Regions from separate parts of the Homo sapiens genome. Here regions 1, 2, 3 and 5 are each linked to region 4. The links come from fine-mapping of genetic effects on plasma protein levels. A gene starts in region 4. Each other region holds a variant in brackets. All regions are shown on one strand. Distances are from middle to middle.

Evidence for each region. PIP is the posterior inclusion probability: the model's chance that the variant is causal. The UK Biobank Pharma Proteomics Project read protein levels with antibody pairs (Olink). The fine-mapping took linkage between variants from a reference panel, not from the people measured, so its PIPs are less certain.
Region 1: its variant is fine-mapped to the plasma level of the CDHR1 protein (UK Biobank, PIP above 0.99).
Region 2: its variant is fine-mapped to the plasma level of the CDHR1 protein (UK Biobank, PIP above 0.99).
Region 3: its variant is fine-mapped to the plasma level of the CDHR1 protein (UK Biobank, PIP above 0.99).
Region 5: its variant is fine-mapped to the plasma level of the CDHR1 protein (UK Biobank, PIP above 0.99).

Annotation. Positions count from the first base shown.
Region 1 is chr10:84,710,333-84,716,747 of GRCh38, forward strand. No RefSeq gene overlaps it. Among named protein-coding and RNA genes, the nearest start is that of CCSER2, 380 kb to the left of the region's middle. The variant A/G (reference allele first, on the strand shown) is at 3,613.
Region 2 is chr10:84,238,571-84,244,985 of GRCh38, forward strand. LRIT1 (leucine rich repeat, Ig-like and transmembrane domains 1) reads right to left here and starts at 2,976. Exons shown (of 4, transcript NM_015613.3): 1 at 2,748-2,976. The coding sequence starts at 2,869. The variant G/A (reference allele first, on the strand shown) is at 3,804.
Region 3 is chr10:84,720,028-84,726,442 of GRCh38, forward strand. No RefSeq gene overlaps it. Among named protein-coding and RNA genes, the nearest start is that of CCSER2, 390 kb to the left of the region's middle. The variant G/T (reference allele first, on the strand shown) is at 3,246.
Region 4 is chr10:84,191,957-84,197,751 of GRCh38, forward strand. It overlaps CDHR1 (cadherin related family member 1), which reads left to right and starts at 2,581. Exons shown (of 17, transcript NM_033100.4): 1 at 2,581-2,859; 2 at 3,538-3,633; 3 at 4,549-4,694. The coding sequence starts at 2,805. RefSeq lists silencers at 2,477-2,606, 2,677-2,796.
Region 5 is chr10:84,155,670-84,162,084 of GRCh38, forward strand. No RefSeq gene overlaps it. Among named protein-coding and RNA genes, the nearest start is that of CERNA2, 13 kb to the right of the region's middle. RefSeq lists enhancers at 1-156, 5,232-5,733, 6,066-6,415. The variant T/G (reference allele first, on the strand shown) is at 3,513.

The DNA of each region.
Region 1 (6,415 bases), 520 kb after region 4:
CCCTTATATTTGGTTGATAGTTTTTCTGAGTATAAGCTCTGGTAGAAGTTGAAAAAAAATTTCTTTCAAGATCTGAAGGTATCATCCTATTGCTTCTAGCTTCTTGTACCGCTTGTAAAAATTCCAAACTCATCTGCTTCCTAACCCTTTGTGTGTGACCTGCTATTTCTTTCTGAAATGTTTTAGAATTGTCTATTTGTTCGAACTTCTCTAAAATTTTATTATGCTGAATATAGAGGTGTTTCTATCATTATCCATTTCCTTGGGCATTTGGTAAATGCTTTCTATCTGAAATTCTTGTCCTTTAGTTCTTAAAAATTTGCCTGAATTATTTTGCTAGTAATTTGTCTGTCATTTGTCTTTCTGGAAATTACATTGTTTGGATGTTAGACCTCATGACCTAGTAATTTTATCTTTTTAAATTAAAATGATATTTTTCATCTCTTTTCTTTTTAATTTCTGTGATTTAAAAAAGTTATCTTCTAAAGTTTCTATTACCTCATTTCCCATTTGCCCTGAGAAAACTGCACTGGCAGCTAGCTGCACTTTTTTTTTTCTAAATGGGAAATGAGTCCAGTTTCTTTGTTTCTGCTATTATGTTTCCCATTTCTAAGAGTTGTCTTTTGTTTTCTAATCTCCCCCTCCTCCTCCTCCTCCTCTTCTTCTTCCTCTTCTTTTTCTTCCCTCATTCTTCTTCTTCTTCCTCTTCTTCTTCTTCTTCCTTCTTCTTCTCCTGTCTTATTTTTTTCAAAGATGGATGCAATGTCTTTTCCTTTTCTGCCAGTGGTTCCTTTCTGTTTGCTTGTCACTTAGTTCTCTGCATTCCATGTTAGAGGCTGTCTTCACACGTCTGGTAGTCCTTGGTTGTTTGCTCAGGCTTAAGAGTCAAGTGACTTAAGAGATAATCACATGCTATGAATTATTTGATGTACTTCTGGACTGTGAGCTTCATTGTAGAAGGATCAGCTTGAAATATTTACCTGGGAACCTCTGGGATTGGTGTCATCAGTGTCTTCCTTTGGGCTGGTTGGGTTCTCCAGAAAAGGCTCTTCTAAACTTCTGCAGGGAAGGTGTGGCTGGTCACTAGTGTTCTGGAGTCCAGGAAGAAAGAAGGTGGTGAATGTTTAGTATGCAAGTTTCCTTAATACATCTGTTTCCCTTGTGCTACTCTGCCCTTAAGTGTGCATGGTGTTTCCTATTCACAGACAATCTTTTTTATTCTCCCCAGATAATAATTCTTCAGACCAGCTGAGATAGGGAAGAAGCAATTTCCCAATGGTTTGTAATTGGGAGTGGGGATCTATTTTTTTTTTTTTTTTAAGAATTTATTAGGTACCAGGCATGAGTATACATTCTTAACAAATCTTAACTTACAAAGAGAGAAATGTTAAAATCCCATTTCTCAGATACAAGAACTAAAGCACAGAGTGGTAAAGTAACTTGCCCAACACTACTTAGCCAGTAAATGGCCAGCTGGAATTGGGCTCCTTATTGTATCATCTTGACAATACCACACAGTCAGCTCCAGATCTGACAGTTACACAGCTTTCAAATGATCCTCCTTTTCTTAGCTACCTCCTCCATTCTACCCCACTTCCAGAGGTGACACCTGGTGCTGCCAACTCTGAAGCCTTTTGAGGATTCTGCATTCTTCTTTGGATTGTTTCTTGGCTCTCCCTACTGTTGGCTTAGAACTGCCAAGTCAGTTACCATTCACCCATCTGCTTTCCAGCCTCCAATATCAGGGGGATGTTGTCTTCTCTCTTCGTCTCCCTGCCTTTTGAGTTTATTCTTTTTAAACAAAATCTCCTTGCTGTAGTTTCAGTGGGATTACGAGAGAGGGTGCTTTAGATGCATGTGCTCAATCTGCCATCTTTACCTTAAAATCTTGGGATGGAAGTTTCCACCACCCTGGTGTGAAGACAGATTTAATTTGAATCACAGGTTATGGAGAAATGAATGTTTCTTGCACTCTTAAATTTGTGGATACAACTTATTCTGTTTCATATGCTCTGATACATATTCTTCTTCTTTTTTTTTGAGACGGAATCTTGCTCTGTCACCCAGGCTGGAGTGCTGTGGCGCGATCTTGGCTCACTGCAAGCTCCGCCTCTCCGGTTCACGCCATTCTCCTGCCTCAGCGTCCCGAGTAGCTGGGACTACGGGCGCCCGCCGCCACGCCCAGCTAATTTTTTTGTATTTTTAATAGAGACAGAGTTTCACCGTGTTAGCCAGGATGATCTCGATCTCCTGACCTCATGATCCGCCTGCCTTGGCCTCCCAAAGTGCTGGGATTACAGGCGTGAGCCACCGCGCCCGGCCCTGATACATATTCTTATGTCTCTGAGGAATTCACACGTGTGTCTCTGTAATTTGGACATTTTGGGGATGTGTTCATGTTTCTTAAGCAGAAAATGACTCCTCAACCACCCAATCTCCACATACACATTAATGAGCTACCAAATCTTGTGAAGAATATTAACCTCTGTGGCTTTAGCTTCCTCATTGGCAGTATCCTCTTTTCCTTAAGGAATAAGCTGGCCCGTGCATCTGGCATCCTTCTGCCCCTGGCATGTTTGATTTTATGAGTCTGTGAGATTACTTAGTATATAGTGCACCCCATGTTTGCAATTTTTCCCTCTGGTGGAGGTTTCCCATGTGTGGTCCCTTTGTTTCCTGGACACAGGCATAGGTCCTTGCCAGCTGTCAGGCTTCTTCTCATCCCACTCGTCCAAAAAACTAATGTCTTGGCAGGTTTTGTGCTGAATTCAACCTCAGTTACAGCCACTTACTGACCTTCTACTCAGTGGCAGGTGCTCTCTTAACACATGCAGCACACAGAGATGAACTAGTCAAGTCCTGCTGTCCAGAAGCTAGTGATCCAGCAGGGAAGACAAACACATAGCTCAGTATCATACTAAGAAATAGGTTCTTTGATAGCAGTGAAAATAAAATGTGCTGGAAGAAGCACAGGGAAAGAGTGATGAATTTTGCCTGTAGGGATGAGGCAAAGCTTCATACACACTGTGACACATGCATCAGTTCTCACGGGAAAGTACGAATGTTCTAGGCTATAGAAATAGTGTTGGCAAAGGGGGGATGATGTGGGAGAGAGGGAGAAGAGGGAGAGCAGGGAGTGAAGTACAGTGAACATGTGTTGCTATTTTCTGCATATCAGGAGCCTAGATAGGCATGGTGGCAAAGAGGTTATCCTGAGAGAAGAGAGAAGGTTGGCTGAGCAAAAGCTAGTTACCTGGTTGAAGCCTCATTCTGGAGTTTGATTGCCTGGTTTGCAAACTTAGTTTCATCACTTACAGACCCTGTGACTCTTGGAAAGTTGCTTTACCCTTTGATATGGTTTTGCTCTGTGTCCTTGCTTGTATGTCATGTCCAGTTGTAATCCCCAGTGTTGAAGGAGGGGCCTGGTGGGAGGTGATTGGATCATGGGGGCAGATTCTCCCTTGCTGTTCTGGTGATAGTGAGTGAGCTCTCATGAAATCTGGCAGTTTAAAAGTTTGTAGCACCTCTCGCTTTGCTCTCACTTTGCTCTCTTCCTCCAGCTCCAGCTATGTGTAAGATGTGCCTCCTTCCCCTTTCCCTTCTGCCGTGATT[A/G]TAAGTTTCCTAAGGCATCCTCAGCCATGCTTCCCATACAGCCTATGGAACCATGAGCCAATTAAAACTATTATCTTTATCAATTACCCAGTTTCAGGAATTTCTTTATAGCAGTGCAAGAATGGACTAAGATACCCTTTCTTCAGTTTCCTTATCTGTAAAACAGGAGAGATTATACAAATAAAACAAACTGATGCATGTAAATATTTTTGCACAGTATATGACACATAGGTTAAGTGCTCAAATGATGGCTTTAATTTTATATGCCTGTTTATCTTTTCATCCTTCTATTCAACTATCCACTTCTCTTTATGTCTTTTCTTGTTGTACAAAGGTTTTGACAGACAGAAAAAGGTATTGAAGGGCTCTCAGGGAGAGTACGATGAGTTCAGTTTTAGATGTTATGAGTTTGCTGTGCCTGTGGGATACTCAAGTGGTGATGTCAAACAGAGATTTTGAAAATTTGGTTCCAGGTGTTCATAGGAGAGGTCAGAGTTGGAGATATGGATTTGTGAGTGACAGGTGAAGTCAATGGCGGGAATGAGATTAGAATTGGAGGGGAGATTGGGAATGAAGTCTAGGGCATTAGTACCTTGATGAACTTCTCCATTTCAAAGTAGAAAGAGGAAGAGGAGAGAGGGAAGGTGTATTACTCTGCTTGGGCTGCCATAACAAAATACCAAATACTGGACAGCAGCATAAACAACAAGAGTGTCTTGTTTCACAGCTCTGGAGGCTGAAAGTCCAAAAATCAAGGTCCACAGGGTCAGGCTCTGTTGAGGACTCTTTTCTTGGCTTGCAGATGGCCACCTTCTCATTGCATCATCATGTGGCCTGTTTTTGTTGTGTGCAAACAAGGAGATGGAGGGAGAAGCAGGAAGAAAGAGAAAGTGGGAGAGAAAGAGCTCTCTGGTGTCTCTTCTCATAGGAACACTAACCGCATCTGATCAGGGCCCCACCCTTATTACCTCATTTAACCTTGACTATCTCCATAAAGTTGCTATCTTCAAACACAATCACATTGGAGGTTGGGACTTGAATTGTGTACCCCCTCCCCTAACTCATATTAGGGGAGGGGGGACCCAATTCAGCTCATAGCAGAATGTGACTTAGAAAAATAGAAGAGGTAAGGAAGAATTTGAGGGACAGCAGGGAAACTGGGGGATGAGAGAAGTTCTTGAAAATGCAAGGCCAACAATGTCAAAAGATGCAGTAATAATAATAAAAAAAGAATAGCTACAATGTCATGTGTAACTATTGTGGGTAACCCTTTACATGAGTTACTTCGTAATTCCTCATATCATCCTGTGCTGTCAGTCCCTTTTTGAGTTGAAGAAACTGAAGTTGGTAGAAATTGAGTAATGTGATGGCGCTTCCCCAGCTGGTTAGTGGAGAGCCAGTTTTCAAACATGGGTTTCTGATCCCAAGTTGTGTATTATTTCCATTGTGCTCAGTTGCTCTCCTGGCGGGAGGTTGATGTTGAGAAGAGGTCACAGGGTTGGAGGGGTTTTGGGATGGGTCAGTGATGGTATGAGAAAAAGGGTGCTGGTCTAACTTAGGCCCATGGGCTATATTTTCTGACCCTTGCTAAGAGAAACATAACTGTGACTGTAAAGAGAGAGGGAGGTTAGTGGCTGGTTAGGGATGGGTCAATGGTGGTATGAGAAAAAGAAGGGCAGGTTTCAGGATGTGGGTTATACGGGGAAGTGGGGAAGTGCAGCCTGGTAAATCTTAGACCATTGTGCGGATTGTAAGTGCCCTTTGACATGTTGTCTATTCATGGGAAAGATGACTCTATAGTCAGTAGCTCTAGGAAGCCCAGCATTCTGTGTTTCTTGGTATCAGAACGCATTTGCACAACATTGGATGTTTTCTTCCCTACCCTTGCTTATTGGAGCTGCATCGCTGGCCAAAAGCTCTGCATGGGTTTTGACTGCAGGCAGGTGCAACCCAACAGCACCTCACCTCAAGCATGCACCTGTACCTGATGCTGCCTGCTGTCACCATGGGTCTCTTCTCTGGTTCCCACAGGTTGTTGGATACATTTCCCCCTGATTCCTGCATTACACACAATCCTGCAACGTGGTGTACACAGGAGCCAGCATCTGCCCCCTAGTGGCAGCCAACTTGGCAGTGCAGCCTCATTTTCCCTCTCTGCTTCCCCCGCCTTGTCCCTGTCATGCTCCTTGGGATTGTACTTCCTAACAAGGCACATAAGTCTTCCTAAATAGTGCAGAAATCTTCTGCCTCAGGCTCATTTCTTTTGAAAATGAAGCTTTTACATGCAGGCCATAACACCCCTTCCTTTAGAGATTCACAGTGTGTGTAAGCATAATATAGTTTCTTTTTTTTTTTTTTTTTTTTGAGACGGAGTCTCGCTCTGTCGCCCAGGCCGGACTGCGGACTGCAGTGGCGCAATCTCGGCTCACTGCAAGCTCCGCTTCCCGGGTTCACGCCATTCTCCTGCCTCAGCCTCCCGAGTAGCTGGGACTACAGGCGCCCGCCACCGCGCCCGGCTAATTTTTTGTATTTTTAGTAGAGACGGGGTTTCACCTTGTTAGCCAGGATGGTCTCGATCTCCTGACCTCATGATCCACCCGCCTCGGCCTCCCAAAGTGCTGGGATTACAGGCGTGAGCCACCGCGCCCGGCCTGCATAATATAGTTTCTAAGAATTTTTACAGAAAAAGCCTCTGCATAATCCAGAGAGCCCTAAGCTTATTAAACTTTGAGTCTCTTTTTTTATTTTAAATATTACACTAATTCAACTCCAAGGATTATAGTGTTCTACAATGTATGGGACA
Region 2 (6,415 bases), 47 kb after region 4:
GCTGTGTGTCCTTGAGTACATTAGGTAACCTCTCTTTTCCTCAGTTTTGCCATCAAATAGACCCCACAAGGTGGTTATGGGGTTTAAATGAGGTAATGCATGTGGAAGCCCAGCACATTGCCTGCCACCCTGCATGAGCCCAAGGGTATGGATCACTGTCATCAATGTTTGCATCTCAGCACTGCAAGTAGATCGGGTCAGTCTTATCAGCTCTTCTACCCAAACCACGACTTCTTAAACCTTATTCCATTAAGTTTGAGACTAAAGCAGAGGATAGAGAGATAATAGGAGGCAGTCCCTGCCCTCAAGAAGCCTACATTTCAGGGCTATGTTTTATACTACGTAAACTGAAAACAAAATCCTAAGCCCCCCAGCCACTGAACAGGCCCTTCTAAGGGAGGTTGTTCTCTTGTAATAGCATAACCTACTGGTGATATCAGGCTTTCCTGGAGGTGCACACACATATCACCAGCATCCCTCAGCATAAGTCTATGCTCCACTTAAAGGCAGCTGGGCTGGGCTTGTTTTTTCTTGTAAACAGTGTCCACAAACAGCACGGATATTCTTACTCACTCCTTTTGAGCAAATATACATGGAACTCTTACTAAGTGATGAGCAATTCAGAAGAGAATCAGCCTCATAGCCCCTGTCTCCATACAGTGTGTAATCTAGCTCAGGAAGAAAGAGCATTTACAGCAATGATATTTCCAGATACTACAATAGGTTCGGGCAGGTGTGATAGCTCATGCTTGTAGTCCCAGCTACTCAGAAGGCTGAGGTGGGAAGGTGGCTTGAGCCTAGGAGTTGGAAGCTACAGTGAGCTATGATTGTGCCACTGCACTCCAGCCTGGGTGACAGAGCAAGACCCTGTCTCAAAAAAAGTAATACAGGTTTGGGTATTGCAAGGAGGAAGGTCTGGATGTAGGTGAGAGAAAGACAGGTGATTGGAAAACTTATCTTGAACGGGAGAGAAAACGGTAAAAGGGGCATTTAAAGGAAACCATAAGAACTCAATGCAAGCCTACACCACAGCTCAAACCTCCAGCACAACTCCGGGTGGGGTAAAACCAGAGGCAAACTGGGACAAACAGCATGGGCACAAATCCATTCAGATGCATAGCCCAGCTCCTCCCAGGCAACCCCAGTGCCCACAGGCACACACTTCACGATACAACAGCTCAGACATAAAGGCTGGGCTCTCTGAGAGGCCCAGGTTAGAGAGGGATCTGAGGAAGGCTTCTGACATGCAGAACGAGCTTTGGTCTAACTGCACAGTCTGTGCCCATAGCCACAGGGGACCTCAGGGCCCGCTACCACCTTTCATGGCCTCATAGGACCCTCCATGCAGATGGGCTGGTGCATGTTAGCCATGGGATAGTCAGGCGGGTAGAACCAAGAGCTCTGGCTTCAGAGAAGGGAATGCCCACTGACTTACATTAGCGGCCCTAGAAACTCATTTTCCATCTTAAGATTAACTCTGCTGCCTGGAACTTACCACTGGTCCCTGCCCATGGCAGCATCACCAGATAAGTGTTCTGAAAACTGAATCGGAATGCCTGGGTTCCAGGACCGGTTTTGTCAATGATGCTGTGTGGCTTTCAGCCCTATGCCTTCTACGGGTGGTGGGAGGCTTTTTGTCACTCCAGTGACACTGCCCAGGCTGGGAACAGCAGGCTGTTCAGGGCTCAGCCTGGCTTCTACTGGGGACAGGACCCTTACACTTCATATGAGTTGATGCCTTGGACACTTGGGCTACAGTGGAGCTCATTCTGGTTCTCAGATCATTTGAGGTGTCTTTTCTTAGTGGTTCTTCTCCATTCTCCTCTCATCCCCCAATCAACTCGACATTCATTGCCAAGATTATTAAAAGGGTAGCTCCAATAACATTGTTCCCAGGATCAGAAACCATCAGTGGCTCAGAAACCATGCAGAGGTCATTAATGGATAAGCTAAAGAAGTTGGAGAAAAGATGATTTAAACGTTGCTAAAGAAAAGAAGAAAATGAGCAGTAGTGGAAGAGCAAGGGTCCACAAGCCACAGTGGCATGGGAATGTCCCATGAAAGGAGAGGAGGAGAGAATGGAGGTGCTCTGAGGGATCAGACAGAGGGTGGGGAAAGTCAAGGAAAAGGCTGGGGATGGAAGGAAGCATGCTTGTCATGGGATGGGCACTCCTGGCTTTTGGAGCACTCATAAAAAGGTATTGAGGCTGAGGCTCCTGGGATCTGGCCAGCGAAGATGGAGAGGAGGAAGAGAATGAGAGGCAAGTGGTCCCATCATGGGTGGGGTTGTAGGAAATGCCTGGGATATGATTGAATATTGTAGAGAGGTCAGGCAAGAGAGTGCAAGTGGCCTGGGAAAGAAGGGGCTGGGGAAATATAGAAAAGAAGAGGGAATAGAAAAAATAAAAGAGAAGAAAAAGCAGTAAGGGAGGAGATTTCCTGGACCTTTAAGGAGGGCTCTTCACCAGGAGCCTGGAGGAGGACTTAGGAAGGACTTCTTAGAACTGACATACTTGTGCCTCACCCTCGGGCCCATGTGTATAGATACCTGGTACCTCTCGAATAGAGTCACCCCCTTGCCTGCTGGAAAACAATGCAGCACAGTCCACCCCATAGGATCCCTGGTCCTCAAGGGCCAAGGGAGATGAAGACCTCACCCAGGGCCCCAGCTCCAACTCCTCCCAACCCAGCCTAGCTGGCAAAGCAATGGAGGCTGGGCTGCCCGTCCCACGCACCCGGTACCATACCTGGCCTTGCTGCCATCACCCATGATATGGAGGCTGCAGCTGCATTGAGAGGGGCAGAAGCCCCGGGCCTGGGGGGGCCACGCAAGGGCCAAGAGCCAGAGCATGCCTAATGCCACCCTCATGGCTCCTGGCTCCTCTCTGGCCCAGGCAGGGGCCTGTCCCTGGACCGCTCCGTCCCACCGGCCCAGCAAGCTCAGCAGCTGCCCACTTGCTCGCCAGCCCCTTACACCCCCTCCTGAGGCCATCGGATAAACATGGACAGACTGGGGATTAGGGAGGGGAGTCCCAGCCGCAGCACTCAGAGGCTTATTGCTTTCTGAATCACTCAGTCCTGAGGGTAGGGGCGGGGGACCCCCTTCCATAGCAATATCCACAGGCCCAGAGAGGCCAGGGCAGGGCACAGCAAAGCAAGACAAGTAGGCAGCTTTCCAGAGGCGAGCAGCCATGGGACTGTCATCTGCAAAGCATCCCATCCCAACAAGGCCACGGACAACACAGACCCCACTGGAGTGCCAGGGAAGATGGAGAAAGAACCCCCGCCTCAGTAAGGGCCTTTGGAAATTCTTTCCTGTGACACTGTCTCATAGCAAAAAAGCAGTGAAATGAAGCAACTCTTCCTGATGGTGCTAAAGGCATTGGAAGGAGGCTAAGCTCTGGACCCAGGCTTCCTGGGGTCAAATCCCAGCTGCTCCATTAAGGGGCTGTGACCTTGGGTGAGTCACATTATCTCTTGGCCTCTGTGTCCTTATCTGACAAAGAGAAATAAAGTTACTTCATGCAGGGTGTTTGTGAAAATCAAACTCAAATTCCAAGGCCTTGACAGCCTGTGGGAACAGAAGCTCTCTCACAAGTTGTAAGTGCCCAGTTTCACTGGTACTTATAAGACCCTACTTACAGAAGAACTGGACAGATTCAGATATTTTGGGGAGACATCAGAGGTGTCTCTCATGAGCCCACAAACTGTCCCAGGCTGCCAGGCAAACAGCTGCCTGCCTTGAGTGCCCCATGGATATGGACTCAACACACTACTATTTCAGCTGAGCCCTTCTGGGCATT[G/A]CTACGAATGCCAAAGGTGGAGATGTCTCCACATAAGGGACAAGGGCACCCCTCTCCTCAAGGTGCCCTACTCCAAGGAGGGCCCCAGAGAGGTAGCTCAGAGAGGTCTTAGAGAAGGCACTTTCAGGTTTTTTTGGAGACAGGACCCCAACCTCTAATAAGGGCCTTTGGAAATTCTCCATCCATAAAGCTTTGTTTTGCTTTATAGGGACAGGGTTGCTCTGTCACTCAGAGTGGAGTGCAATGGTGTAATCATAGCTCACTGTAGCCCCGAACTCCTGAGCTCAAGCCATCCTCCTGCCTCAGCCTCGCAAGTAGCTGGAACTGCAGGCAACCACCACCATGTTTGGCTATTTTTAAAAAATTATTTTTTGCAGTCAGGGTCTTGCCATGTTGCCCAGGATGGTCTCAAACTCCTGGCCTCAAGCGATCCTCCTACCTCAGTCTCCCAAAGTGCTGGGATTACAGGCCTGAGCCACTGCACCCAGACTAATTTCAATTTTTACTTATTCTCTCCTAACCCTATCTCGCCCCACCATATCTACTCAAGATGCCAGTGGGGACTGACCAGGGATGATTCCCAGCAGTAGACACTCAGTCGACTCATTCATTCATTCTTCACATTTGACCCTGAGGCATTGTTCTCTGGTCCAGCATGCCCTACCTATGTTGTTTGGCTTTTCTAGAAGGTTCCCCAGTCCTTCATGCCTGTGGCTCCAGGCAGGCCTAGACCAGTGAGGTATGACCTGCAAAGATATCTGGGGCCCCAGTGCACACATAAAATGCCTAGCTCGGAGCCAGGTCTGTTTCAACAATACTGGCTTCTCATTCTTTCCTTCCTTCCAATGCAGCCAGTAGGATTTTCTCAGTGCTTCCCAGCTATACTTCCACCTCCCCAAACCCAGCCGTCAGCTTGCCTGTTCCCACATCTCTGCTTCTTCCTCCTTGTGTCTTTTGCCCAAATGAACTTTACCCTTTAATCTTGGCCTTGCCCTGCTTTATCTCCTCTCATGAAGGCTTTTGTGATCTCGAAGGCATGAAAAAAGGACTGACATATGTATTAACCAACACCATAAGGTAGAAATTGAGACAGAAGGCCAGGCAGGGTGGCTCATGACTGTTATCCCAGCATTTTGGGAGTCCAAGGCCAGCAGATCACCTGAGGTCGGGAGTTCAAGACCAGCCTGACCAACATGGAGAAACCCTGTCTCTAATAAAAATACAAAATTAGCCGAGCATGGTGGCACATGCCTGTAATCCCAGCTACTCGGGAGGCTGAGGCAGGAGAATAGCTTGAACTGGGGAGGTAGAGGTTGCGTGAGCCGAGATTGCGCCATTGCACTCCAGCCTGGGCGACAGAGCGAGACTCCATCTCAAAAACAAACAAAAAAACAAAAAAGAAATTGAGAAAGAACAGGGAACGCTCTGGAGGGCGCAGCCATAAGCTCAGCCCTGCAGAGGGATTAGGCTTGGATGTAAGTGAGGACTCATGAGAGGAAAGGCCTGGGAAGTGGGCATTCCTGGAACAGAGTGGGTTGCTCTACCAGGTGAGTCAGAAGATGCCATTGAAAAATGCCTGAGCCTGAGGAATAGGAGATCGGCTTTTGTTCCAGCTCCATCCATAAATTACTGCATGGCCTCAGGCAGATTCTTAACTGTTTTTAGCCACAGTTTCCTCATCTAAAATGGAAAGGATAATGGTATCTAACTCATGGAGTTGTTGTAGGACTCATCAGAAGATCCCCTAGCACAGGGCCTGACCTCACTCAATATTAGCTATGTTGCTGATAGTGCTCTGGAGCTTGGTTTCTTTATCTGAAAATGAACTAAGTTGTCCTAGATCAGTATTTCCTGGTGTAAATTTTATCATGAGCCAGAGCATAACAGTGCATAAAGAGCCAGTGTATCAAGAAGTCATTTGTAGCAGCCAAAGCTCTTAGTGGGGCCGGCAAGGCTGGGCGGGTTCGGGGTCGGAGACTGACAAGACGGCAGGCAGCCCCTCTGTTCTAAGACAGTGTCCTAGGACATTTTTTATGCTCAGGTGCTCTATGGGAGACAGGAAATGCAGCCCTGAGGTTTATATTCGTGATATCTAACCAGGACTTATATAAAGGCCACAGACAAAAGACATTGACATTGCAGAAAAGTAAACGGAAGAGTCCAGTGGTCCCACTCCAAGGCGCATAACTAGTTAGTGGCAGATTCAGAACCAGAACCCCAACCCCATTTTCTGGTCCCAGATGGGGTTCTTCCTCTGACAGCAGGCGACTTCCCAAGCCTCATCCTTTCCCCAGCGCTTTGGAGTATACTCATGTGAGCCTGAGGACACACACACAGGCACCAGGCTTGTTGGGAACAGCTGCGGCTCAAATCCCTCCTCCTGCTCCCCTCCCCTGGTTATGCAACTCTTTTCCAATTAGGCTCTCAGCCACACACCATTTGGATTCCCCGACCTTAATCCTGTGCAATGGGGCTGAAATGAATGAGACAGGGCTCCATTCTGGCTTCACAAAGGCTGCATTGTCCAACTCGTGAATGGGTTCCTTCTGCTTGGGCCAAGAGGACCATTTGCAGCGGGGAGGCATCCAGAAACAGCCCAAGGTCCAACATAA
Region 3 (6,415 bases), 530 kb after region 4:
GAATGACAGGGACCAGGAAAGGGATGGAGGAATAAATTATAAAGGAGCAAGAAGAAACTTTGGAGGATGTTGAGATGTTGAATATGTTCATAATTGTGATGTGGTGTTGGTTTCATGGGAGTGAACACTTGTCAAAACTTATCAAACTATATTTTGAACATGTGCAACTTATGGTATGTGAATGATACCTCAACGAAAGTTTGTTTTAAAATCCAACTTGAAAGCCAACTTCCTTGGGCTCCACCTGTCCTCATATCAAAATTATGCCTTTCCTCTTTTTTCTACCTTCTCCAGCGGACTTCCTGAGGCCAGTGCAGGCACTAGGTTCATCTGGTTTATTATTATTCTAACGATGTCTGGCCTTAGAAAGAAATATAAATACTTATTGGCTGATAAATGCAAAGGCATGGATTTCGGGTTAGTTGTGCCCATGCTTGGATTGCTGCTCTGTCACTCATGAATGAATTTACGATCATTATGCTAAGCCTTTGTTCATTTATAAATTAGGGATAATCTGCCTCACAGAGTCATTGTGAGGAGTAAGTGTGAAAATGTTAGTGATGCACTCAGCAGAATGTTTAGCACCCCCAAGCTTTCATTCATGCTCCATTCCGCCTTAACTGGGGGCTCAATGGGGGATGTTAATGTCCGGCCCTGATGCCCACAAGGGAGACAATAAAAAAAAACCAATATTTTTGAAAAAATATGCCCAGAAGTGTGGAGCATACTGGACTGTTTCCTCCTATTCCTGAATGAGGCTCTTAGGCTGGGAATGCCCCAGAAAGCAAGGAGGTGGTTCCTCTGCAATGTACAGTCAATTGGGTTAGGGGCAATCAATGCCAAAGCATTCCTATAGAAACTCTTGAGAATCCAAGGTTAAACGTTGGGAGCCAGTGGAAACAGCATTAATCTTTCTAAAGTCACTATTGTGAAATTTTAGGACTGGTGTTCCCTAGAGAAGGGGCAGGTTGGATTTCTGAGTGCTATGTTCTGTATGTTTGTATCACCTCAAAATTAATATGTTGAAACCTAGTCACCAATGTGGGAAGTAATTAGTCACAAGGGCAATGCCATTATCAATAGGATTAGTGCCCTTATAAAAGAGCACTAGAGAATATTAGTGCCCCTAGAAAAGAGATCTCAGCTGCTTTGCCCCTTCTGCCATTTGAGAACACAATGAGATGCCGTTAATAAACCAGGAAGCAGGCTCTTGCTAGATGCTGAATCTGCTGGCACTTTGATCCTGGACTTCGCAGCCTCTAGAACTGTGAGGAAAAAATTTGTGTTGCTTTATAAGTGATCCAGTTTATGATATTTGTGCTATAGTAGCCCAAACAGACTGAGGCACTGAGTCACCTCCAACCCCGGCTGACTCCACACCTTCCTGGGTGGGGGATCATGCCTTCATTAGTGGCCCCTGGCACTAATCCTGATCTTGCCTTGGTTTAAAGTCCTGAGGATGGGCCAGGTCTTATGAAACATGCACATTCCCGAGGAAGGCAAAGTGACTGAGGGAGGGCAAAGGGGAGCTGAGCTCTACCGCAAGTGGAACTGAAGAGGAGGGTAATGGGCCCTTCACATATTATGACAGACAAATCAATATCTTAGCACTTTTGTTCCTCCTCTATATCTGAGATCAATGGAGAGAAAAACACTTCAAATTATATTATTACTATACACCTAAAAGGGGAAATACAAAATAATTCTGAGATAAAGTATTTCTGGTTATTTTAAGATAATTTTCTGAAACCCAGGTAATTACTGGGTCACTAATAGATAAGGAAAACCAGGGTGATGAAAGATATTACATAACTTAATTCTGGCTCTGTTCTGATTTTGGATCGTTATAGCTTAAACAGTAAATCCTGAATAACTCCATGAATTTCCACTGTTAAGTAGAAGAACAGAGAGAAACCCTTAGGGGCTTCTCTTTGAGAAAAGACTAAAAAAATTTACTATAGAGTTATAATTTAGATAAGAAATAACAAGAAACATTATAATAGATAAAGAGTCTCACATGTTTGTTCTGTTATATCATTGAAGAAAAGGTATCCAACCATCCTGAGAAGTAGGTGAGAATGTGTTATTCGGGGAAAAAAGAGCCACTTTAAAACTGAGTGAAAGCAAGACAAGCTGTACCCAGACTCTTAAAAGGTCATCAGGTCACATCTCTCTCTTAGTTTGAAGGTTAAAAGACAGAACAATTAAAAATAACAATAGCTACAATAATTTGTTAAGAAATACACAACATAAAATGTAAATTGTATCATCAAACATTTGAAGTTCAGGAGAGTGGTGTAAAAGTGCAGAGCTTTTTTTATGCCATGAAAGTTAAGTTGTTATCAGACTAAAATAGCCTGTTCTATCAGATGTTTTTTGTAAGCCTCATGGTAGCCACAAAGCAAAGACCTACAGTGGATAGACAAAAGGTAAAATGTCAGGATTCCAAGCATACCCCTAGAGAAAATCACTTAATCATAAAGAAAGACAGCAAGAAAAGAAAAGAAAAAAAGGATCTACAAAACAACCAGGAAACAATGAACAAAATGGCAGTAGTAAGTTCTTACCTATTAATAATTACCTTTGTGATATCAAGATATAAATTTTTTGATTTTCATCAGCGGTTTCTGGCTTACAGCTCCTATAACCCTCATATTTTCCTAGGTGATTAGAGAAATAAGAGTATCTTTTGTTGCCAGGCATGGTGGCTCATGCCTGTAATCCCAGCACTTTGGGGGGCCGAGGCAGGTGGATCACCTGAGGTCAGGAGTTCGCGACCAAACTGGCCAACATGGTGGAACCCTGTCTCTACTAAAAATACAAAATTAGTCAGGCATGGTGGTGCATCCCTGTAATGCCAGCTACTTGGGAGGCTGAGGGAGAAGAATTGCTTGAACTGGGGAGGCAGAGATTGCAGTGAGCTGAGATTGCACCATTGCACTCCAGCCAGAGGAAGGAGAGCAAAACTTCATCTCAAAAAAAAAAAGAATATCTTTTGTTAAAATATTGCCTTTTTTCCTGGGTTCTTGAGACAGCTCCAGAACAGCTGCAGAGCAATATAGGTGAGATATAGTCTTTTACTGTTTCTAACAAACCTCTTTCAACCACATCTGAGTTTATGTTAATGAGGTGAGTTTTGCAAATTTCCTAGATAACCATAGGTTTGTAGGTGGGTTGCCATGCACAATGTGCTAAAAGGATTGGAACTCATAGCACCATCCTCACCTCAGGGGAGGAGAAAAGGG[G/T]CTGAAGGCTGAACTGACCACCAATGGATGATGATTCAATTAATCATGCCTGCATAATGAAGCCTCTATAACAACTTTAAAGGACTGAATTCAAGGAGCTTCTAGGAAGGTGAACAAGAACATCTCCACGCATCAGGAGAGTGTTCACACGTCAACTCCGTTGGGATGAAAGGTCCTTTTCTTGGGACCCTTCCAGACCTCACCTTGTGTATCTCTTCATCTGGCTGTTCATTTTTATCCCTTAAAATACACTTTATGATAGACAAGTAAGTGTAAGTGCTTCCCTGAGTTCTGTGTGCCGCTCTTGCAAATTACTCAAATACTAAGAAAGTCATGGGAATCTTGATTTATAGTCAGTTGGTCAGAAGCACAGGTAAAACAACTTGGGGCGGGCTTGTGATTGGTGTTGGAAGTAGGAGGCAGTTTGGGGAAAGATCCCTCAACCTCTAAGAGATCTGATGCTATCTCCAGGTAGATAGTATTGGTAATGAATTGGAGAGGACCCAGCTGGTGTTCTGCTGCAGAATTAATTGCTTCCATAATATATGGGAAAAAACTCACACACATCTGGTGTCAGAGTTGTGTTGTGAGAATGAAGTGGCCACAATGACAGAGACATGGAGGCTAGATAAAGTGTCATGGACTAAGATTTAAAATGGCCAGTCAAGAAACTCTCCTCTGGATGTCCTACCTGCCAGCAAGAGAACCTATGCTCTGCTCCTGGGATGATGGTATTCTTTGAAGAGATTCATTTTCCACTTGGTGGTAAGTTGACTATATTGTTCCCTTCTATTCTGGAAGAGCTGGAGTTTTATCCTCTCAAGAGTGGATATCTAAGGATCGTCTTTCCAACTCGCAAACCTTAGATAATTATCGATAGAATTTCATATAACACAGCATTTGACCAGGGAACCAACTTTCTAGTCAAGGAGGTGTGGGAGTAGACCACTGACCTTGGGATCTACCAGTTGTACTGGATACATCATCACTCAGAAGCTTTCATCCTGATAGATTGTTGGAATGGCCTGCTGAAGGCACAGATGAATCACTGTTCAAGAAAAATACTCTGCAAAGATGGAGTACCATTCTTCAGAAAGTGGTACATGCATTGAAACAGAGAATTTTATGCAATGCTGTGTCCTCAACAGGAACAACAGATAAGTCAGAGAAACAAGGGGTGGAAGCAGGAGAGGCCCTACATGACACCATTGCTAATGTCTCAGTGGAGGAATTTGTGATTTCTATGTGCAGCTCTGAGCTTTGCAGAGTTAGAGGCCTCTGTCCCCCAGAAAGATACATGTTCACCAGCAAGGGTACAATTGAACTAAAATTTATGGACGCTGTATGGACCCACTGGGTTAACTGTGTCCAGAAATCAGCAGGCAAGAAGGGAGTCCTTGTTTTGTAATTGATTCTGATCTGCAAAGTTATCACCTCAACATTGAGGGCAGAAAGAATTTAGAATGGATAGTACAGAAGGGAGATGATGAATACCAATTGCAACCTGAATACCACCTCTAGCAATGAAGCCTGTGGTTCATCTCACTCTCTTTCCTCTCCTAAGTTTCTTCTAAGGAAGAGAGGCTCACTAGAGCCCTGAAGGAGCTGCTCTCTGGACATGTATGGAAAAGTCAAAGTGCAATGCACAAAAGGTGGACAATGGTAGACATGGAGGTGTGTCTACAGGAGAATGCCTGTAAAGAGAGGACTTCCCATCCAGTTGAGCAGATGTGGTCTCCTTCAGGATTTGTCTAAGCATATATTTTAAAATCAGATTTACTAAGGGAAAGTGTCTACATTAAATTCAAATTCTTCCTTCTAAACTTCTAAGAGTTTTGAAAAATGCATGCAGTTGTGTAGCCGCCAATAAAACCAAGATAAGGAACATTTTTATTACCTCAAGAAGTTATCCTGTGCCCAATAAAATCAATATAAAGAACATTTCTGTCACCTCATAGTCAATTTCTCCCCATACCTCCATATCCTGACAATCAGCGATCTGTTTTCTGTAGGTATTTTTGACTTTAAAAAGGGTAATAAATGGAATCACTCTGTATATAATCTTTTGAGCTTGTTTTTTTAATCAGGTAGCATAATACATTTGAGATTCATCTATGTCATGTTTATCAGACATAGATGAATCCTTTTTAGTAGGCATTGTATTCCATTAAATTGATGCATTCCATTATATAATGAACCACTGTTTGTTTGTGCATTTTCCTCTTTAAAGACTTTTGGGCATTTCCTGGTTTTGGTGATTATGAATGAAGCCACTATAAACCCTTGTTACCAGTTTTTCTATGAATATATGTTTTCATTTCTCTTGGGTAAATATCTAAGGATGAAATTGCAAGGCTGTTTATCAAATGTGTTTCATTTTAAAAGAAATGGCCAAACCATTTTCTAAAGTGGCTGTGTCATTTTGGATTTCCACTAATGGTGCATATGTGTTCTAGTTGCTTTATATTCTTCCCAGAATTTGGTATTGTCATTTTCTTTCTGGTAAATATTAGCCATCCTAATGGGTTGTGTAGTGGGATGTTATTGTTGCTTTAATTCAAATTTTTCTAATGATGAATAATGTTGAGCATCCTTTCATATTTTCATTTGCCATTTGAATATCTATTTTAGTGACTTATCTGTTTAAATACCTCCTCCCTTTTTACTGTGCTATTTAATTTCTTACTATTGAGTTTTGAGAGTTCCTTATGTTTTCTAGATTCAGTTCTTTATCAAATCTCTAATTTGCAAGTATTTTCTCACTGTCTATGTTTTTCTTTTTTAATTAATAGAATTTTTTTCAAAGCAGTTTTTAAGTATATAGAAAATTGAGCAAATAATACAAAGAGGTTCCATATACTCCCATCCCACCTCACAGTTTCCCCTGGTATTAGCATCTTGCATTACAGTGATACATCTGTTACAAATGATTAGCCAATATTGATACATTATTCTTAAATAAAGCCTATGGGTTATATTAGGGTTCACTTTGTGTTGTACATTCTATAGGTTTTGACAAATACGTAATGTCATGCATCCACCATGACAGTGTCATACAGGATAGTTTCAGAGTCCTAAAAATTCCCTGTGCTCTACCTATTCATCCCTCTCCCTCTTTTCGACAATCCCTGGTATTTACTGATCTTCTCAGTGCCTATAGGTTTTGCCTT
Region 4 (5,795 bases):
ATAAAGAGCTGCTGTTTTCCCAGGTCCTTAGGTGATTTGAGGACAGGGTTGTATCTAGGGTGACCGCCAAATACCAGGTTACCTTAGGCTTTGCTGGTTTTAGCATTGAAAGTCCTGCATCCCTGGAAACCCCTCAGTCCCAGGCAAATTTGGGCAGCTGGTTACACTAGCAGATCTGAACCTAAAACAGCTGAAGGAAGCAGCAGGAGTTGGAGTGGGGGGTGTGGAGGGTCTTTCTCAGACCCTTCTACATCAGAATAGAAGTCAGATGTAATGGTGCTGCCTGTATTCTCAGCTGCTCAGGAGGCTGAGGCAGGAGAGTCTTTTGATCCCTAGAGTTCAGGGCCAGCCTGGGCAACATAATAACACCCTATCTCTAAAAAGAAAGAAGAAGAAAATACAAAGTAAAATACAAAACTGGGGCTCTGGAAGGAATGTGTGATGTGTGAGTGAGAGGCCTAGAAGCTGAAGCTTCAGTAGATTCAAGATCATCTTCTTCTGCCATGAAAAGGGTTTGAACCAGGCGGGCACAGTGGCTCATGCCTGTAATCCCAGCACTTTGGGAGGCCAAGATGGGTGGATCACCTGAGGTCAGGAGTTCAAGACTAGCCTGGCCAACATGGTGAAACCCCGTCTCTACCAAAAAAAAAAAAAAGAAAAAAAATTTGCTGGGCATGGTGGCGTGCACCTGTAATGCCAATATTTGAAAGGCTGAGGCAGGAGAATCACTTGAACCTAGGAGACAGAGGTTGCAGTGAGCTGAGATCCGCCATTGCACTCCAGCCTGGGTGACCGAGTGAGACTCCAGCTCAAAAAAAAAAAGAGTTTGAACCTTCTTTGGAGCCAACCCAAACTGTATGTGAATCCAAGCTCTGCACCTCAGAGAGAATAAGTCACTTGCTTGGTCGTACACAGCCAATGAGGAAATCTCCCTCCTCTGCAAAGCAGAGAAAATCACATTGGGAGAGCAGTGCAGGTCAAATAAGATAATATGGGCAAATATACATAAGCACACATACAGCACATGGCATGTAGGCTACTCCTTCCCCTTCCCTCTCCAGTGCATGGCTGTTGACTGAGGGAACTGAGGAGAGAGAAATCAACGGCCCTAGATTGGTGAGGAGCAGGGCTAACAGGACCCAGGGAGAGCTGGCTTTTCTCGGCCCACCAAGACATCTACTCCAGGAAACCTTGGCTCTGCCTCTGGCTCCTGGGAAATCCACGGCAAGACTCAGTCTCCACATCCCTATATGGGACTTGCAGAATACTTGCCTTAGCTTTGTCCCAGCACTTTGGGAGGCAGATTCAGAACATCTGTGCAATTTAAAGTGTGTCTTTTCAGCAAAAGAGCCAAGCCTAAGGAGACTCAACAAGGGTTTCGGCCAATTAGGCCTGAAAACTGCTGCACATTCTAAAACCATTGATTCATCTTCCTTCTTCTCTGCAAATCCCTGACCCTTGCTCACAGTAGATCATGTAGGGCTAGACCAAGGGATGGGGGGTGCTCTGTTCCCTCAAAGGCCCCTGGCAGGGGGAGGGGGGGAATGCTGAGTCCTCAGCTGTGGAGACCTCTCCCAGGAGCACACAGAGGAGGGATCTCCTCTATCTGAGAACACATCCACCCAAGGGCATCCTGGGAAGTGGCCTGGCTTGGGCTTGAAGTGACCTGTACCCCCATAAATGGCCCAACCAGGAAAAGGAAAACAGGCTGCATTTCCAAGCACCCTCCAGTGTCAGAGCAGGAGAACGAGGAAGCCCAAGGAGCTTTACCAGCAGCCAAAAAGGTTCCTGGGCTTACCTGTGTCTTCAAGTTATCAGCATCCAGGACCCCAATAGCAGTGCCTTGCTTTGTGTAAATACCCTCTAGGAATGAGATCTCGTGCCTCTCGGGCAGTTCAGATCTATCTTGGCCAGCTCTGTGCAAGTCTGTCCTAAGATGGGGCTTAACTCTGCCTTCAGGCCCTTCACTCTTCCTTGGAAGGTTTGAAGAGTGGGTCAGCTGCCCCTTCATGGTCCCAGACTGGGCACTGACTGGGAATGGGGAGCAGAACTGCCTCTCACCCTGGTGGACACCTGAGGGTCCTCCCTGCTGCCCACCACACAGATCAGACCCTTTGGGAGAGGTGGTCCAGCCTGGGGAACAGGGCAGGAATGGGTTGAGATCACAGAGAGGGGGTCCTGATAACCCCTTACCATCTGCTGCCCATCCATCACCCTTTCTCTTTGCCTTTGGTCTCACGCGGCTTATAGAACCTGCTTAGACTGCTAAGGCAAGGCCCTCTCGGCCGCTCCACTAACTTTTCTTCTGGAATGCTTAGCTCAGAGAAGACAGCTAAGCCCCTGAAAGTCACAGAGGAAGTTGATGAGAAAAGAAAACTGCGAAGCCCAAGCCCCACCAGGACTTAAGTACCCTGGGAAAGCCTCAGGACAACTTGGGGGAAAGACACTCCTGTCCCCCATGGTGTCCTCCTGTCCAGGACTGGGGGCCGCCGGCAAAGGGGGCGTGGCGGGCGGGGAGTCCTCTTGTCACGCCCTCCTGCCCCCGCCCGCGGCTGGGAGCCTGTCGCTCCGCTCTGCGCCGCTAATTGGTCTCGTCAGGCGGCCGGCAGGAGCAGATCCGAGCCGTGTCATCCTCTTAGCGCCCTCACGCCACCCGCCGCTCCCGCCCCGTGCCCCCTCCCGCCGCGGCTGCAGTCGCCGCTACCCCCATTGTGGTCTCTGCCCTCCCCGCGGGCCCAGGGCATGCTCCGTGCCCCTGCGCCCGGTCTCGGCGGCGGCAGGCGACACTCCGCGCCGGCGGAGACATGAGGCGCTGCCGGTGGGCCGCCCTGGCCCTGGGGCTGCTGCGCCTCTGCTTGGGTGAGTGGCCGCTGGGCCGCGCTGGCCGCGTGGATGGCGAGGGAGATGGGCGCTGGCGTCACCCAGGTGGCCAGAGGGACATGGTCCTGGACCACTTCCAGAGTGGGACTCGGGCTGGTGGACGGGAGCGGAGAAGTCCTTCCATCTTCCTGGCCCATTCGGTAGTGGGGAGTGGGGTAGCGGAGTAGTGGGGAGCTCCGGGGCGCTTCTCCAGAGCTGGCATCCTAGGGCCCCAGGGTTTGGCGCCCGGACCCCCGCTGCTCTCCGCTTGCTGGGAACCAGAGCTGTAGGCTTGGTGGCAGCTCCGATGCTGCGTGGGGCAGGAGATAGTGCCCTGACTCGCGGCTTGACCTTGGCTGGGCTGGGGCACTGCCCCTCTCCGAGCGCGGGTGCAATCTGCCCATTGATGAAGGAGGGGTTGGATTGCTACCTGGGTTCTAAGCGCCCACATGCTACGTGTCCCTGACAAGCCCGAGCCCACCGGGGGCGGAGTGGGGGTCAGGGGCATCCTCTGGGCGGCGCCCCAGTGGGGTCCCTCGGTGCACTTGGGTTGGGGAGGCGGAGCGCCCTCCTGCCCAGTAGCTGGGCCTGACGCGGGACCGCGCTGGTGCGAAGCTCCCTCCTGGTGTCTGGGTGTCCTTTGCCTGGGTGTCCGTCTGTTCTGTGTTCTTTTTCCAGCTCAGGCCAACTTCGCCCCGCACTTCTTCGACAACGGGGTCGGCAGCACCAACGGAAACATGGCTCTGTTCAGCCTCCCAGAGGACACCCCTGTAGGTGAGTAGCCCTGGCACCTGCTCCCGATAGGTCTCCCTGAGGGGTGCAGGCAGACTTAGAACACAAAGTGCCCCAGGCACCACCCAAGTTGCTGCGCGCGCCCGGGGGCTCCTTGTTTGCTCTCCGAATTCCCCTGGGCAATGGCAGGAAAGAAGGTCATTGCTGCCATGGCGACTTAAGTCTGGCCAGTCCTGGAGACCAGGGCTCCCCCCCACAGACAGGGTCGCCCCGCGAGGCAGGCAGCTACAGCTGCCCCTTATGGCTGTGTGACCTTGAACAAATGTATTTACCTCCCTGAGCCCCAGGTCTCTAGGCTTTAAAACGGCCTAAGAACATCCAACTTGCTGAGATATGCAGAGAGAGGGGAGGAGAAAGGGGAGATTTCACACTCCTTCTCCCTCACTTTGTGGGTAGTGGGAACCCGGGGAAAAGGGAGAGCAGAGCAAAGTAGGCACCTGGCTCAGAAATCCCTGCAGAACCAGGTCCAGGCATCGGGGACAGTGGTGCACTGTGGGTCACCCCTCCTGCCTTAATGGCTGCTCCCATTTCCCCTTCCCTGTACCCAGGAGCCCCTCAATCTTGGATCCTGAGAGAGGAGTTATTACCAGGCTGAGCAGAACATAGGCACTACAGTTAGGCACGGCAGACCTGCACCTGCTCTGTAACCCGTGTTATAGATTACAATCTGGAAAGTGGCTGATCATCACAACCACCCGCTGTGAAGAATAAACATACAAAGAGGGAAGCAGCCAGCAGGGGTGAGGCCAGCAATGAGCACCAAGTTCAGGGCAGTACCTTTGGCACTGAGTTGAATAGTCACTTTATAAACAGCTGAATCGTTGGTCCTGAGCATCTGCCACTTTTAGGAAAAGTTGGGTCTCAGATTCTATGTCTCTCCACTGTGTTTCCTTCCAGGCTCTCACGTATACACCCTGAATGGGACAGACCCTGAGGGAGACCCCATCTCCTACCACATCAGCTTTGACCCCAGCACTAGAAGCGTCTTTTCTGTTGACCCCACTTTTGGAAACATCACCCTGGTTGAAGAGCTGGACAGAGAGGTATGGGGAGGTGTGGGGAGTGCTGCGGGGCCACTGCCTGTAGACAGACCTCGGTGGGCTGAAGTTCCCCTGGAGCACATTGGTTAGAACCTCTCCACAGAGTAGGGGATGAGGGGGCACACCCCAGGCACATCCACTCTGTGAGATCTCTGGGCCACTTCCCATCAGCAGAGTGGGCTTTACTTTCATGCTCCTCCTTCACACAGAGCGAAGAGTGGGCTCCTTTAACGAGCACCTGCCAGCCCTGCTAATCTTTTAAGCATGTTCCATTAAAAATAAATCCGTTTGCACTTTGAGGTTTCTGAAAGAAACCTCACAAAGTGATTTTTCAAGCCTGTCCTGGGAGAGGCACAGGAACTCAGAGCAGGTCAAGGCTGGAAAGGGTGGTTGGCAGTGAGTCTGAGTTTGGCAGAGCTCCTCCACTCTACACACTTGAGAACTTGCAGGCAACAGGGCATGGGCTTTTTCAGACCGCATAGCAGCCTGGTGTGTGGCTAACTGGACCTCAGCTGTGGGGATGCTGCCAGCTCGTGACAGCCTCCACTAGCTGCAGGACAGGGTAGAGAAAGGAAAGGGAGGTCTCAGGGACTGCTGTGGGGACACAGCAGTGGAGCCTGACTGTGCTGCCAGTACCCCACTCCCTGGCACCCGCGGGATCTGGCAACATCCGATACCCTTCCCCATTGAGGTCTCACCATATCCTGGGAGCACTGAGACACCATGGATGTGAGCCTCTGCAGAGCCCTGGAATGTGGAGAGGTGTGGAGAGAAAAGGGGAGAAAAGGGAAAAGAAAGAGGAAAAGTCTTTATGGGACCTTGAGCACACTAAGGTCGACATCTCGCCTCACTGTGGCAGGAGAGTATTTTCTGTTGGAGCCCCAACAGACCCTCTGGGTCTCTGAGTTTATAAGAACCCCGGACACAAAAGTCCCAAAATAAGGTCTCAAGCATGGGGGGAGGCAGCTTTCTACTCTGCCAGGCATGCTGTCACCACCACTTACCCTGCTCCAGGGATCTATTGGCACGCCCAGACCTCCTCTGATGGGTGCGTGGGGCAGGGAGAGCTCCATCCAGCCACAGGGGTCCTATGGCGTGTCAGAC
Region 5 (6,415 bases), 36 kb before region 4:
CTGCTGGGCAAAAAAAAAAAAAAAAAACTAGGAAGACAGGCAGGCATGTTTACCTTGAAATTGTATCTGGGTAACGTGTCCAGGTTAAAGGTACTAAAACTGAGTGATACCCAAGACATATAATTCCAGTGGGGTAGGGTGGCCCAGCTACACTAGTAATAGCTGATGTTTGAATTGAACTCTTTGCCCAAAGTTTGATCTTTGCACAAGGTCATATGGCTGGGAAGAATAATGAGACAAACTCCCTAACCAATTATGCCGGGAGGATAGATGATAGATCTAAAATCGTGTAGGACACAGCCATATAAAAGAAAGCAAGCTTGTCCTTATAGAGTTAGCTGGAGGCCATCATCCTGTTACAAACAACAAATTAACCCAGGAACAAAAAAACAAATGCCCCATGTTCTCACAAATGGGAACTAAACATTGGCTACTCATGGACATAAAGATGGTAATAATAGATACCTGGGATTCCTAGAGGAAGGAGTGGGGCAAGGGTTGAAAACCTATTGGACACTGTGCTCGGTATCTGGGTGATGGGATCATTGGTACTCCAAACCTCAGCATCACGCAGTATACACAAGTAACAACCTGCACATGTATTCCATGAATCCAAAGTAAAAGTTGAAGAAGTAGAATTTTGCTTGAGAATCACAAAAGCACTATACAAATTAAATAGGTTGAGATTCTATTAAAGTGTAAGTCACTTTTAAAATCTTGGGAATCAGTATTCTGAGTAAATTAAAGGAAATAGAACAGGAACATTTTAGTTTTCTGTGAAAAAAAAATTGACCTCAGTGAAGGATACTGGAAATCATCGTGCCTTCCTCACATCTATTTCTTACGGTACAAAATAGTCCTTTTTTGTATTGCCCAGTTCACTCCGAGCTACAAATCAAAATTGACCATTTTTTAAGGTCAATTTCATCAATAAGATGAAATCCTAAATGCATTCCATTTTTAACTAGCACAAAATGGAAATGACTTTTCAGGAATAGATTAGAAAGCTATGACCTTGAGGACTTTCCACCTTTAAAGTAAGATTCTTTTGTGAAGCAATTCAGGAAGATGGACGGTGAACATTCAATTCATTAACATCTGAGAACCATGAAGAGAGTATTTTTTGCCACAAGCAAAAATGAACCTAAATAAAAGACTGGTGGGGGAGGAGAATCATAACGACCATTATGGCCCGCATCTTATGGGCTGCTGCGCAGTTAGCATGAGGGGAGGCCTTGCACAAGCTCTTCCCCTCAGCCTCAGCATCCTGTTCTGCCTCATTTGTGGCTTGCGTCAGACTGAGTCACCCAGCGCAATGTCACTCTTCCTCAGGGGACTTCTCTCAACCTTCCACCTTCTACAGAGAGCTTGATGGATGGTGAGGTTGTTGCAACCTCACTGGATACAGATAGTAGAAGTGCGAGGATCCCCGTGGCTACACTCGAGATAAAATTAATGTGTTCTGGCAGGACTGAATGGACGTTTTTCCTCACAACCGTATACGCAAGTTTAGTAGTTTTTAAACATTCAATTTATGCTTTCCACTGGGCAATTTGTAAAAGCAGCATGATGACCCACAGGTATGGTGTCAGTGGGCCATCATTCCTCCAAGTTAACCCTCCATATGCCTGACATGGATTTTCTCACCTGTGTCCCCAGAGTGTTTTTACACAGTCAACAGAGAAAACAGGTCCATGGCCATCTCATTGGAGGAATGTTACAGGTTTATTTTATTTGCTTAGTAGTTGAATTATCTCATTTCTAAGAGACAGCATTTTTTTGCATTTCATTTCTGAAGTGCATATTCTATTTCAGGATTTTTCTTTTTTTTCTCAAAACTAGCATGTCTTAAAGTCAGTGGCATTTTAAAATGGAAAAATATTTGCCGGTGGTTTTCTTTTTCCCATGATTTTCTAATACTTCACTGTCCTGTAAGAACAGATATCTAAAGCATTGTCTTTTGATAAATGACCTCAGTAACTAATTATTACTTATTTATGATTCAGAGGGGATCTTCTGAAGTACAAACAAGCTCACCCCACCCAGTTATGTACTTTTTTGAAGATTTCTTTTTCTTTTTTTTTTTTTTTTTTTGCTTAAGCAACAAAAATTTATTTTCTTACAGTTCTGGAGGCTAGAAATCCAAGTCCAAGGTTCCAGCATGTTCTGTTTTTGGTGAAGGATCACTTTTATTTTTCTGAGACCGAAGTGCTGGGATTACAGGCATGAGCCACCACACTCAGTCAAGGATCACTTTCTAGCTTGTAGATGGCAGCCTTCTTGCTGTGTCCTCACATGGTGGGGTTGGGGGAAGAAGAGAGAAGGCCCAGTTACGTACTTTTAAGTATGCAGGCTGAACGGACTGAGGTCAGCAACACAGAATGACCCCCAAACAGGAATATAAATGGAAGTTAAGAAAGGGCACGTTACTGGTTTGGTATGATCTGTTAGTAGAGTTAGGGATTTAATAGGTTCATTCCATTTGGTACACCTTGAGGGAATGAACTGTTAGCACCAGCTGTGGGGAAACACAAGGATGAATGGCTGGAAACCCATCATTCTAGAAGACAGCATCCAATGAGCAGTGGGAGTGGGTAGTTGCTAGGAGGATCTAATTCTAGAGAGAGAAGGCAGTGCTGGAGGCAGAAGCCTTTACTGTGGGTGGGGAATGTTAATCATTAGAAGCCACTGTTTTAAGAGATTAAATCAACATTTATTAGACACTCTAAAGTAGTACGAGAGTAGTTAAATGATAAGAAATAGCAACACACTTCAATGATTCAAGGTAATTATAAAATCATTATCCAGAAATTACAAGAGGTTTATTCAGACTAATTGCCACCGGAGTTCAGAGGACGGAAGCAAATATGAGGAGTGCATATAGGGACATTTGAGTCCAAACGCACCAGCCCAGAAGGGTTGGTACTTTGTGGAAAGGGGAATGTCTGGCCTGGCTCGCATGTGTAGCATCATGGGGACTTCCTGATCTCCTTTGCAGAGAACCCAACCTTCTCTGCCTGCAAGACCCTGACAAAAATGTGGGTATTCTTGAAAAGCTATAAAATGTCCTTCAGGACTCTGCTGTGTGACAATCAAATGACGCCACCCTTAACCACACTGTTTCTCAGAAGATGCAAGCATGATTGCCTTCCTCATTTAAATAGAACGGTTATTTAAAAAGAAGTTGGATAAATTATGACAAGACTTTCACTGTTATTAATTCTGAGTGGCAGAAAAAAATGGGCATTTGATAAGAAAATGGGGCTTTTGGTATCTTTTTTAGTACATTATAGCTGCCCTTAAGTAATTTTGTAAAAGGCAAAGGACACATGGGGAGAAAATGAAAATTATGGAAACACTTTACAAGGAGCTTTCCAGATCCGGGAACTAGTGGAATGGCCCAGGAAAGCAGTCTCTCCGCCCTGCGGAACTGAACCCAGGGCCTTCAGGGTCCTCCTAGCCTGGCTCCTTCTGTGAGGTTGAAGTTTACCCCGGAGTACATGGCCCTAGCT[T/G]CACCTCCCACATCCCTGCCCTTTCCTGGGTGTGCTAGGTGTGGGGGTGAAAATGCGGAGGCAAGGTGACACATGTCTGCTGGGAAGCCTGCTGTCAAATTGCAAAGTACAGAACAGACGCTGACAAACAGGATCCATCTCAGCCCTACCTGCAGTTTTCCAGCTCTAAGCACCGGCAAAAGAGGAAAGCTTTGGCACTGCTAATCCTCCTTTCTACACAACCTCCCTCCCTCCTGCCCGAGTTCCTCCTCGCACTTGCTCTGTTTGTCCTCTCACCTTTCTCTGTCAAAATCTGCACTTGGATATGAGCCTAGGATCAGTCATTTGGACCTTAATTTCAGTGTGTGTGCTTCCTTTGCCTCAAATTGTGGCAAGAAAAATAGTCGTTCCTCATTAAAGCAGTATCAGCTATCCTTGAGCACAAGTGGGAGGTTGGGTATTTTTTGGAGACAGATTGCTGTTGAAAAAGAAAGGAAGATCAGCAGTCCCACTACTGGCTATAAATTCTAGGGGAATTTAATCAGTATCTCGAAGAGATATCTGTACTCCTGTTTATCACAGCACTATTCATGATGGCCAAGATGTGGAATCAAGCTAACTGTCCATTAACAGATGAATAGATAAGGAAAATGTGCTATATATACACAATGGAATGCCACTCAAAAAATGCCTTTAAAAAGAATGAAATTCTGTTACTAGCAACAACAAGGATGAACCTGGAGGACCTTATGTTAAGAGAAATAAGCCAGGTACAGAAAGACAAAAAATGCACGTTTTCATTTCCATGTGGGATCTAAATCAAACTCATAGAAGCGGAGAGTAGAGTGGTGGTTACCAGGGGCTGGTGGGTGGGGGGGAATGAGGAGATGTTATAAATGATGTGTATTTATGGTGATGGATATGGTAATTAGTTTGATTCCATGATTCCACACTGTGTACATATAACATCACTGTGTCTGCCATGATAATATATTATTATAGTTTATCAAAAAATTAATTTTAAAATATACTTCATTATCATATTATAAATTAAAAATGAGAATTCTGCAGAAACTGGAAATCTAAGCCAGTGGTTACGATGTTAACCAAAAAGATCCAGAAGTTTAAAAAAAAAATTCCTGGGGAATAGTATTACATTTTGGATCAGCGTTAAGTTCAATTTCACTAGAATTTCAGGGTCAGAATGGCCTTGTTAGTTGAGTGTTCTAAACTCTTTTATCTGTAGTTAGGTACAATGGCATGTGCCTATAGTTCCAGCTGCCTGGGAGGCTAAGGTGGGAAGATCACTTGAGCCCAAGAGTTTGTTGATGAAAAGAATCCAACTCTGTAAAATATTTGAAGAGTTTTATTCTAAGCCAACTATGCATGACGATGGCCCATGACAGAACCCAGGAGATCACGAGAACATGTGCTCAAGGTGGTTGGGCTATAGCTTGGTGTTGTACATTTTAGGGAGACTTAAGATTTCGATGAATGCAGGTAAGATGTATATTGGTTCAGTACGGAAAGGTGGGACTACTCAGAGGGCTGGGGGGCTTCCAGATCATAGGTGGATTCAAAGATTTTCTGAATAGCAATTTGTTGAAAGTTTATCTAAAGATCTAGAATCAATTGAAGGGATTGTGTGGGTTAAGATAAGAGGTTGTGGAGACCAAGGTTCTTCTTATGCAGATGAAGCCTCCAGGTGGCAGGCTTCAGAGAGAATTGATTATAAATGCTTCTTATCAGACTGGATACTAGACTCTTAGTTAATTCTCTCCTGGATCTGGAAAAAGACCTGGAAAAGGATGAAAATCAACTCTACAGAATGTTGATTTTCCCCTCGAGACAGCTTTGCAGGGCCATTTCAGAATATGTCAAAGAAATACATTTTGGAGGTAAAATACGTATTTCTTTCAGGGCCTGCTAGCTGTAATATTGCTACAAAGAGTCTTCAGGTCTCTATTTTAACGTTAATGCTGGTCAGCTGTGCCTGAATTCCAACGGGAGGAGGGGGTAATGAGGCCTGTCTTCCCACCCATTCCCATCATGCCTGAACTAGCGTTTTAGGTTTACTTTAGAATGCCCTTGGCCCAGAGGAGGAGTCCACTCAATTGGTTGGGGATGGGGCTTAGAATTTACTTTTGGTTTACAAGTTTGAGGCTGTAGGGCACATAATATTATTGCACCTGTGAATAGGCACAGTACTGCAGCATGAGCAGCATAGCCAGAGGAGAACCTGTCTCAAAAAAGTAAAAGCCTTTTATCCTTAACTATTGTAATACTCAATTATAATAAACGTGGGGGGTAAGAAAAATTGAGAAAGGAAGGGAAAGCTATGTACCCCATTTCTGAAAATTGGCCACCTAAAATAATAAAAAATTATGTTCATATTGCATGGCGCTTTTAACATTACACTCTCATCCAGTGAATCTGTTCCTCTCCAGCTGCACCTACTATTTTACATCGAAAATAACAAAGGCACAGAGAAGTTGAGCAACTTGTGCAGGTCACACAGCTAAAACATAGGAGAGCGCTGGTTAGAGCATGGATCATGTGGCTGTAAAGCCTGTGCTATTTTAACAAGTGTAGGGGAGGTAGAAAGACACCAAATACAAGGGTCCTGAGTCCCCTACTTTAGGCTGAAACTTGGGCTGGGTATGAAGGGGTGGGGGCAAAAGACAGAAACTCCAGAGAGAGAGAGAGCAAGGCCAAACATGAAGGGGGTATGCTTATCAAGAGCCCAGGGACTGGTTTCACACATGCTTCAACACCAACCTAGAGTGGCCATGGGAGAATGAAAGACATTGCCTTTTAGTCTCATCTTTGTGGCATAGTGGAGATCATGACATTTCAGCACATTCCCTGCGGAGGAGTCTGCAGGCCTGCTAGCTGCTGCCATAGTGAGGCAGGGTAGCCCTACC